Linked DNA regions of Homo sapiens: region 1 is linked to region 2. Evidence: fine-mapped expression QTL. A gene starts in region 2. The other region holds a variant in brackets. All regions are shown on one strand. Distances are from middle to middle.

Region 1 (5,367 bases), 710 kb before region 2:
ATTAGTTATAGAGCATGAGACTGTCCCCAAGGCTGGAGTAGATTTTTTTTTTATTTTTGAGACCAAGTCTCACTCTGTCACCCAGGCTGGAGTGCAATGGCACGATCTCTCCTCACTGCAACCTCTGCCTCCTCAGTTCAAGCAGTTCTCCTGCCTCAGCCTCCCAAGTATCTGAGATTACAGGCACATAACACCACACCTAGCTAATTTCTTTTTTTTTTTTTTTTTTTTTTAGTAGAGACGGGGTTTCACCATGTTGGTCAGGCTGGTCTTGAACTTCTGACCTCAGGTGACCCGCCCGCCTTGGCCTTCTACAGTGCTGAGATGACATGCGTGAGTCACCATGCCTGGCCAGATCAGATTTCTAGATGAAAGAAGACAAGCTTCACCAAGGAAGTGGGCTCCGTGACAGTTTTGTTTCCAGACCTTTCTGATAAGAACGTAATCAGTCAGCATCCTCTTCAGCAGACAAAAAGCAGATCTTGCTTCTGCTGAAGTCAGCAGGGAGAGCCACTGAACAGAGAAGTAAATACTCATGATGCTAAAGCCAATGTAAATATTGACCTCTTGGCATGATAAATCCTCCTGTTAATCTAAAACAGAGATCCGCCCCACCACACCCATTGCCCTATAGAACATGGATTCTGCAATTCTCTCAGAAGTTCAGGAAGGTGCTGGTAGGAACAGAATTGTTTTCATCCTGATTTCTCCAGCAGTCTGTGCTCCCAGCTGTTCTGGATCCCAAAACAACGCAGGAATGGGCTGGAGTTAACTCAAGGGAGCAGGGGAGTCAAAACAAAAGATTTCTTTGCTTTGCTGCAAGTGTTCCCTACTTGGCCAGGGCAAGATGCAAGCAGAACATATAGATATTATAGAAGATCTCCACTTTTGATTTTTTTTTTTTTTTTTTTTTGGAGACATGGTCTCACTCTGTCGCCCAGGCAGGAGGGCAGTGGAGCGATCGTGGCTCACTGCAGCCTTGACCTCCTGGGCTCAGGTGATCCTCCCACCTCAGCCTCCCAAGTACCTAGGACCACAGGCACACACCACCATGCCCAGCTAATTTTTTGTAGAGACTGGGGTCTCCCTGTGTTGCCCAGGCTGGTCTCAAGCTCCTGGACTCAAGCAATCCCTCCACTTCAGCCTCCCAAAGTGCTGGGATTACAGGCATGAGCCACCTCGACCAGCCTGAATTTTCTTCTTTACCTGGACACCCCCAAAATTCCACTCAGGCCCTATGAAAGTGAATACTTCTTTGCTCTGCCTACCAACAGGTATAAACTTGCCTGTTTCCTCAAACATCAGTGGTGAACTAGATATTCGGAAGACAGCAAATTAAATGGCTATTCCAATAGTCCATTTTGTTTTTGTTTTTGGTCTTTTTGAAGATGGAGTCTTGCTCTGTCACCCAGGCTGGAGTGCAGTGGCCGATTTCCACTCACTGCAACCTCTGCCTCCTGAGTTCAAGCCATTCCCCTTCCTCAACCTCCCAAGTAGCTGGGACTACAGGCGCAAGCCACCATGCCTGGCTAATTTTTTTTTTTTTTTGACAGAATTTTGCTCCTGTTGCCCAGGCTGGAGTGCAATGGTGTAATCTCGGCTTACCGCAAACTCTGCCTCCCGGGTTGAAGTGATTTTCCTGCCTCAGCCTACCAAGTAGCTGGGATTACAGGCATGCGCCACCACGCCCAACTAATTTTGTATTTTTAGTAGACACCGAGTTTCTCCATGTGGGTCAGGCTGGTCTTGAACTCCTGGCCTCAGGTGATCCATCCTGCCTCAGCCTCCCAAAGTGCTGGGATCACAGGCATGAACCACCGCATGCACCCGGCTACCTGGCTAATTTTTTTTTTTTTTTTTTCTGAGACGGAGTCTTATGCTGTCGCCCAGACTGGAGTACAGTGGCGTGGTCTCAGCTCGCTGCAAACTCCACCTCCCGGGTTCAAGCGATTCTCCTGCCTCAGCCTCCTGAGTAGCTGGGACTATAGGCGCCTGCCAGCACACACGGCTAATTTTTGTATTTTTAGTACAGGTGGGGTTTCACCATGTTGGCAGACTGGTCTCAAACTCCTGACCTCATGATCTGCCCACCTCCGCCTCCCAAAGTGCTGGGATTACAGGTGTGAGCCACCATGCCTAGCCAATTTTTTTGTATTTTTAGTAGAGACAGGTTTCATCATGTTGGTCAGGTTTGTCTCAAACTCCTGACCTCGGGTGATCCGCCCTCCTCAGCCTCCCAAAGTGCTGGGATTACAGGCATGAGCCACCACACCTAGACTCAAAGGGATCTTCTTGATGCCTGTCCATCTGCACCGTTGGGGGGCCTGGTCACATTCCTGTCCTTCAGTTTCCCACCTGTGTCCTTCCTTCTCACCAATCCAACCCTAATCCATGGCAAGCCACACCAAGCCCGCTGGTGCCCAGCAGGTGAGACATCATGTCTCCCTCAGTTTGATTTACAGGATCTTTCAGAAGAATACAAAAAGACATTGTCCCTGGCCAGACATGGTGGCTCATGCCTGTAATCCCAGCACTTTGGGAGGCTGAGGTGGGTGGCTCCCCTGAGGTCAGGGGTTTGAGACCAGCCTGGCCAACGTGGTGAAACCCCATCTCTATTAAAAATACAAAAAAATTAAGTCATGCGTGGTACTGGGCACCTGTAATCCCAGCTACTTAGGGGACTGAGGCAGGAGAATCGCTTGAACCCGGAAGGCAGAGGTTGCAGTGAGCCAAGATCACGCCATTGCACTCCAGCCTGGGTGACAGAGTGAGACTCCACCTCAAAAAAAAAAAAAAAAAAAAAAAAAAAAAGACATTATCCC[C/T]GATACCACACAATTCGAAGTTAGCAGGTCAGAGGAGCGAGTGGAGGCAGAGGGTCTGGTGACCAGGAAATCCACGTGGTGTCGAGAGAGGATTGGAAGGTAGAGGAAGGTGGAAGGTAGAGGAAGGATTCAAACAAAGCTAAGAGGTAGGGAGGTGCCTTGAGGCAGAGGTGGGCAGAGGGTCAAAGGTAATACTGTGTGTGGGGCTGAGATGGCTGAAACATGAAGGGGCTAGGTTTGAACCAAAGGCGCACGCCCAACTAAACACACATGTGCTCTTGGCAGGGACTCACACCTGTGCACACCACAGGGGCTCATACCTGTGCTCACAGTGTGTCCAGAATTGGTGGGTCCTTGGTCTCACTGACTTAAAGAATGAAGCCACGGACCCTCACGGTGAACGTTACAGCTCTTAAGGTGGTGCGTCTGGAGTTTCTTTCTGATGTTCGGATGTGTTCGGAGTTTCTTCCTTCTGGTGGGTTCGTGGTCGCGCTGGCTCAGGAGTGAAGCTACAGACCTTCACAGTGAGTGTTACAGCTCTTAAAGCGGCGCGTCTGGAGTGGTTCGTTTCTCCCGGTGGGCTCATGGTCTCACTGGCTTCAAGAGTGAAGCTGCAGACCTTCGCGGTGAGTGTTACAGCTCATAAAAGCAGTGTAGACCCAAAGAGCAAAACAACAAGACTTCCACACTCTGGCAGAGGACCCGAGCAAATTGCTACTGCTGGCTCGGGCAGCCTGCTTTTATTATCTTATCTGGCCCCACCCACATCCTGCTGATTGGTAGAGCCTAGTGGCCTGTTTTGACAGGGTGCTGATTGGTGCGTTTACAATCCCTGAGCTAGATATAAACGTTCTCCACGTCCCCATCAGATTAGTTAGATACAGAGTATTGACACAAAGGTTCTCCAAGGCCCCACCAGAGCAGCTAGATACAGAGTGTCGATTGGTGCACTCACAAACCTGGAGCTAAACACAGGGTGCTGATTGGTGTATTTACAATCCCTGAGCTAGACATAAAGGTTATCCAAGGCCCCACCAGAGCAGCTAGATACAGAGTGTGGATTGGTGCACTCACAAACCTTGAGCTAAACACAGGGTGCTGATTGGTGTATTTACAATCCCTGAGCTAGACATAAAGGTCCTCCAAGGCCCCATCAGACTCAGGAGCCCAGCTGGCTTCACCCAGTGAATCCCACACCGGGGCTGCAGGTGGAGCTGCCTGCCAGTCCCGTGCCATGCGCTCGCACTTCTCAGCCCTTGGGTGGTCGATGGGACTGAGCGCCCTGGAGCAGGGGGTGGTGCTCGTCGGGGAGGCTCGGGCTGCACAGGAGCCCATGGAGTGGGTGGGAGGCTCAGGCATAGCGGGCTGCAGGTCCCGAGCCCTGCCCCGCGGGAAGGCAGCTAAGGCTCGGTGAGAAATCGAGCGCAGCGCCGGTGGGCTGGCACTGCTGGGGGACCCAGTACACCCTCCGCAGCTGCTGGCCCGGGTGCTAAGTCCCTCATTGCCCGGGGCCAGCAGGGCTGGCCGACTGCTCCGAGTGCAGGGCCCGCCAAGCCCACGCCCACCCAGAACTCCAGCTGGCCCGCAAGCGCCGCATGCAGCCCCGGTTCCTGCTCGCGCCTCTCCCTCCACACCTCCCTGCAAGCTGAGGGAGTGGGCTCCAGCCTTGGCCAGCCCAGAAAGGGGCTCCCCCAGTGCAGTGGTGGGCTGAAGGGCTCCTCAAGTGCCGCCAAAGTGGGAGCCCAGGCAGAGGAGGTGCCGAGAGCAAGCGAGGGCTCTGAGGACTGCCAGCACAATGTCATCTCTCAACAGCAGGGACTCAAACCTGTGCAGGCACACCGAGCTGGAGAGAGGACATCTCCCAGAGGCGGCTGACCAATGAGCCAGAGTTCTGCCTTGAGATACAATCAATCCCCCAATTCTCAAATCCCTTCCTCACCTCCAGCCCCACCCAGGAAGCCCAGAGCTCATGAAAAAAACCGTGAGGAGGAGGCATCTGTGCGGCTTTGGAGACCAGCCTCAGGCTACAGGTTGCAAGAGGAAGCCATGGTCTTCTGAAGAGCAAGTCCAGGGCAGTTGTCGTGGCTCACACCTATAATCCCAACAGTTTTGGAGGCCGAGGTGGGAGGATCACTGGAGCCCAGGAGTTTGAGAACAGGACAATAAAGTGAGACCCCATCTCTACAAAAATAAAAAAAAATTAGCCAGGCATGCTAGCGTGCGCCTGTGGTCCCAGCTAAATGGAAGGCTGAGGCAGGAGGATCACCTGAGCTCAGGAGATCAAGGCTGCAGTGAGCCATGTTTGTGCCACTGCACACCAGCCTAGGTGACACAGCAAGACACTGTCTCAAAAAATAAAGAAAATACGTGCATAAATATAAAAAGGAGACCAGGTCCGCAGCTGGAGGGCTGGGTGGCAGTGGGAAATGAAAATCCAAGGAGCAAAACCAAAAAAGTGTGCAAAAGCCAGGCACGGCAGAGAGCAAGCCATGGCCCCGGCGATCGCTGAGAGGGCGGCGCTGCCCCGTCCGCCCCCAGACATCGG
Region 2 (5,367 bases):
TACCTGTAGTCCCACCTACTTGGGAGGCCAAGGTTGGAGGATCACTGGAACCTGGAAGGTTGAGGCTGCAGTGAGCTGTGCCACTGCATTCCAACCTGGGTGACAGAGCAAGATCCTGTCTCAAAAAAAACCCAAAAAAATTGGGTGTGTATTTTCCACTTAGAGCACGTCTCAATTTGGACCAGGGCTGGTGAGCTACAGGAAGCTAGTGGCCACTGCATTGGACAGCACATGTGTGTAGGCTGAGAAAGATCAAAGAAGCCCAGCCGTGGTAGCTCACGCCTGTAATCCCAACATTATGGGAGGCTGAGGTGGAACGATTACTTGAGCCCAGGAGTTTGAGACCAGGCTGGGCAACATAGTGAGACACCATCTCTACAAAAAATAAAAATTAGGCTGGGCGCGGTGGCTCACGCTTGTAATCCCAGCACTTTGGGAGGCCGAGGCGGGCGGATCATCTGAGGTCAGGAGTTTGAGACCAGCTTGGCCAACATGGCGAAACCCTGTCTCTACTAAAAATACAAAAATTAGCCGGGCGTGTTGGCACGCGCCTGTAATCCCAGCTACCCAGCAGGCTGAAGCAGGAGAATCGCTGGAACCTGGGAGGCGGAGGCTGCAGTGAGCCAAGATCGCACCACTGCATTCCAGCCTGGGCGACAGAGCAAGACTCCATCTCAAAAAAATAAAATAAAAATAAAAATAATTAAAATTAAAATTTTAAAAAAATAGAGAGAAGGGACACTCTGAGATGCTCATTGCAGGAACCCTCAAGGGGCAAGTTGTAATGCCGAAGGCTGCAGATGGGGTGCCACAGTGTTGGAATGGTGAGGTGGAGGGAATATCTTCCTTGGGAAAGAGGGAGACTGGCGGTGTTCCAAAGCCCTGATGGAGTGAGAAGAGGACACCTGGTGGGGAAGGACTGTGTGTGTGTAGGGGGTGTTGAGTGCCAGGTGCAGGTTGCCTGGCCTGGGGCTGTGCGTGCCATCCCCCCAGCTCAGGAACAGGGCCTAGCTCAGGGCAGAGACTGCTGTTCAATAATACTTGTTGAATGAATGAATTATTGATTGAATGATATGAAGAGGATACTCTCCCTCTGAATATGAAAGGGGACAGACCGAGGAGGGGAGGATGAGGTGGGGAGGGGCTTCAGAGGGATGTGAACCCAAGGGGTGGTTGGGGCCTGTTGGAGGATTCCCAGGGGCTGCACCTGCCTGTCCACACCTCCCTCCAAGGCCACCCTGACCCTGATATTACCCCCTCCACCCAGGGCACTTTCCAGCAGATGTGGATCTCCAAGCAGGAATATGAGGAGGGCGGGAAGCAGTGCGTGGAGCGAAAGTGCCCCTGATGGCACTCCTCCCCACACACCTGCTCCCAAGCTCAGATGGAAGTCCCTTAACCCCCATGCCACATTGCCCCCCTCCTCCTTTCCCTCTTGTCCTCATTAATGGTGATGTTTCTGGGTTGAAAGAAGTAAAAATGTTTTAAGAAAAAAAAGTTTGGCCTCCGTGGGGTGGGGAGTGGGCACAGGGGTCTGGAGGGAGGTGAGGGGAGGGAGTCTCACTTCTACACCCATGCCGATCCCACAGTGGGTGCTGGGACACAGCCCCAGGGGCCATGGATTCCTCAGGTTTCCTAGGGGTTGTGACCCAGGGAGGGCCACATGACGAGGACCGGGGGTTGGGGGAGTTGCTGGGGGCTAACAGTTGTGGTGGGAGGTGGGAGGGGCTGCAGGGTGCAGTGGAGGGGCACGGCCTGGGGTGAGTGTGGCAGGAGGTGGGTGGAGCAGGAGGTGAAGCCTGGATGGGCGGAACAGGAGGTGGGGCCTGGTGGGCGGGGCCTCAGCGTAGGCCTTAGGTCTCAGGGGAGCAGCACGCCTGAGCACCCCAGGACCTGCGCTCAGGTGAGATGCGCTATGCCTTCCTTCCTGGGGCTCTTGGTGGTGACAGACATGGGGCGGGGACTAGGGCGCTGGTGCATCCCAGCAGCTCGGAACTTCTCTGGACCTGAGTAGGAGCTGATGTTTCCCAGGGGAAACCCGAAAGGGAAACTTGGTGGGACCCTGAGCCCTCCTCTTCAGAGCTACTTGTCTTGGGGCCCTCGGAAGGGTTTGGGGACCTGCGCCCCCTGCCTGTTTAGCAGTTTATGCCTGTGACATGTTTCTGGGGTGAGGCTAACTGGCCTTTCATCAGCCTCAGAACCCAAAGAGGTAGAAACCCATGTGATCCAAGTCCTTCGGTGACCAAACGGGCCGGTGCCCAGGGAGGACCATGACTTGTCCAGGGTCACCCAGCTCTGCCCACACCTTGGCGGGGACTCTGATCACTCCTCCCCACTGACCCACATATCCCTGACCCCAGGACCCCTATCTGGGAGCTCTCGCTGGTCTCATCTGACCATGTGCTCCCACCTGTGCCCCTCCTTCTCCAGCAGCCAGCAGGAGTCTGAGAACGACCTTTCAAAAGAGACACACATGCACACCACCAGACCAGACCCCCAAGTCACACCACTGTGGTGCCTCCAGCTTAGAATGCCACTGGGGCAAGTGTCAGGACAGGGAGGACAGCTGATATGTCACAGGACCGGGGCACTGGGGGACTCTGAAGGCCAGATGAGGAAGGGGCAGATGTCTTAGGGGTGAATCTTCCACCTGGGCATGGCGGGGCTTAGGAAGGGGTCCCCAGGATCCAGGGAGGGGTAAAAGCAGGAGAGGGGAGGGGGCACCCATGTCTCTGCCCTCCCCCACTATCGGCCCCCTTCCCCCACCCCTGATGGGAACTAGGAGGCCAAAGTCCGCCCCAAGGTCAAAAAATTGATTGTTTTGCAGGGAGGAGGCAGGCGTGGGGCTGTGGAGAGATTGGCAGGGGAGAGCACAGCCCCTTGTGCTCTGGCCTGGACCCGGGGGCCACGTCTGGAAGGCTGGACTGAGGCCAGGACTGTGCCCCCACCCTTGGGGGTGGTGAGGAGCAGCCTTGGTTCAGGCTGCCTGCCAGGACTGATAAGGGGCCCTCCTAGGGCTCCCACAAACGGTTTATCGGTTTATCGCTGGGGGACAGCCTGCAGGCTTCAGGAGGGGACACAAGCATGGAGCGGCTTTGGGGTCTATTCCAGAGAGCGGTAAGACTAGTGGGATTGGGAAGACCCCTTAGGCCTTCTCTCTAAGTCCCTCAGCCCCCTCCCAAGCCCCTGAGGCTGGCCCCTCCTGGACCGTGTCCTGACCTCGCTTCTTCCCACCCCTGCCCCTCCCCCACGCCCCCACCACCATGCTCATTTGACACCCCCAAGTCACTGACCTCATTATTGCCAGATGCCTCCCCACCCCCCAGGCCTCTTGCCCCAATCTCATGCCCACCTCGCCTGCACAGCAACAACTGTCCCCAAGATCCTCTCAGACCGTCTACCAGCGTGTGGAAGGCCCCCGGAAAGGGCACCTGGAGGAGGAAGAGGAAGACGGGGAGGAGGGGGCGGAGACATTGGCCCACTTCTGCCCCATGGAGCTGAGGGGCCCTGAGCCCCTGGGCTCTAGACCCAGGCAGCCAAACCTCATTCCCTGGGCGGCAGCAGGACGGAGGGCTGCCCCCTACCTGGTCCTGACGGCCCTGCTGATCTTCACTGGGGGTGAGAGCCGTCCCCCTCCCCAGAAGTGAAGGGCTTGGGCTGGGGGAGATTTCTGGGGTCCAGAGGTGGGCATAAAGAGAATCCCCATCTTGCCACCCGCCAGCCTTCCTACTGGGCTACGTCGCCTTCCGAGGGTCCTGCCAGGCGTGCGGAGACTCTGTGTTGGTGGTCAGTGAGGATGTCAACTATGAGCCTGACCTGGATTTCCACCAGGGCAGACTCTACTGGAGCGACCTCCAGGCCATGTTCCTGCAGTTCCTGGGGGAGGGGCGCCTGGAGGACACCATCAGGTAGGGATGGCCCTGCCCCATCCTGTTCTCGAGTGTCCCTCCCCTCATCCGCTCAGACTGGGCCTCCCTGCCTCCTGGCCCAGGCCTCTGGTGTCTGGGTCCCCCTCCTGAGTCCTCCCATCTGCCTTCCTGGCCCCCCTGTTCAGCGGTCCTGGGAAGGATGGCAGGCATTCGGAGCTGAGGTTCCAGGGGACTGAGGCTCTGAGGGTGGCATATTTGGGAGGTGAGGGAGCTGACTGTCTGAGATCAGAGGGGTGCAGCATCCAGTATCAGACTGGACAGACCCAGAAAAGCCTTGAATGCCTCACCCAGGCGCCTAGATTTGGAGCAGGGAGCGCTGAGGGGTTCTGAGAAGCCGCATTCTAGGGAATCAGAAAACCAAGCAAGCAAGCCTGGGCAATACGATGAAACCCCGTCTCTACCAAAGAAAACACAAAAATTAGCTGGGGATGATGGCGAGTGCCTGTAGTCCCAGTTACTTGGGAGCTTGACGGGGGAGGATTGCCTGAGCCGGGGAGGCGGAGGTTGCAGTGAGCCGAGATTATGCCACTGCACTCCAGCCTGGGAGACAGAGCGAGACCCTGTTTCAAAAACAAAATAACGGCAGGGTGCGGTGGCTCAGGCCTGTAATCCCAGCACTTTGGGAGGCGGAGGCGGGCAGATCACTAGGTCAGGATATCGAGACCATCTTGGCTAACACGGTGAAACCCCGTCTGTACTAAAAACACAAAATATTAGCCGGGCATGGTGGCGGGCGCCTCTAGTCCCAGCTATTCGGGAGGCTGAGGCAGGAGAATGGCTTGAACCCAGGAGGTGGAGCATGCATTGAGCCGAGATCACGCCACTGCACTTCAGCCTGGGCAACAGAGCGAGACTCCATCTCAAAAAAAAAAAAAAAGAAAAGAAAAAAAGAAAAACAAGTAAGCAAATGCATTTGTGGGTGCAGATCCAAAAGCTAGGTCCACCCATAGCCCTCTTTTGGGACGGGAGTAATTTTTCAGTGGATTCGCCTGGGTTTTCTAAGTAGGTAATCAGCTAAGCTACAGATAGTAGGAGATGGAGATTCTCTTTTCCAATGCTTATACCTTCTACGTTTTTTTTTTTTTCATTTCTCATTGCATTTGAGAGGACATGAATTTAAGGTAACCGTGGCAGTAGGTATCCTTGCCTATTTCCTGACTTTAATAGCAATGCTTTTATAATACTTTGCCATTGACAATGAACTTTGCTGTGCTCCAGACAGCTTTTTAAAATTGAATTAAGGAAGTTTCCTTTCACTCCTAGCTCACTGAGACTTTTATTGATTGATTGATTTTTTGAGACGGAGTCTCCCTCTTATCACCCAGGCTGGAGTGCAGTGGTGCAATCTTGGCTCACTGCAGCCTCCGCCTCCCAGGTTCACGCGATTCTCATGCCTCAGCCTCCTGAGTAGCTGGGATTACAGGTGTGTGCCATCACG

The links.
Region 1: its variant is fine-mapped to the expression of TFR2 in nucleus accumbens (GTEx, PIP 0.95).

What each region holds. Positions count from the first base shown.
Region 1 is chr7:101,347,657-101,353,023 of GRCh38, reverse strand. No RefSeq gene overlaps it. Among named protein-coding and RNA genes, the nearest start is that of COL26A1, 13 kb to the left of the region's middle. The variant C/T (reference allele first, on the strand shown) is at 2,823.
Region 2 is chr7:100,639,227-100,644,593 of GRCh38, reverse strand. It overlaps TFR2 (transferrin receptor 2), which reads left to right and starts at 3,042. Exons shown (of 18, transcript NM_003227.4): 1 at 3,042-3,117; 2 at 3,366-3,618; 3 at 3,722-3,908. The coding sequence starts at 3,085. ACTL6B (actin like 6B) reads left to right here. Exons shown (of 14, transcript NM_016188.5): 14 at 1,268-1,497. The coding sequence ends at 1,348.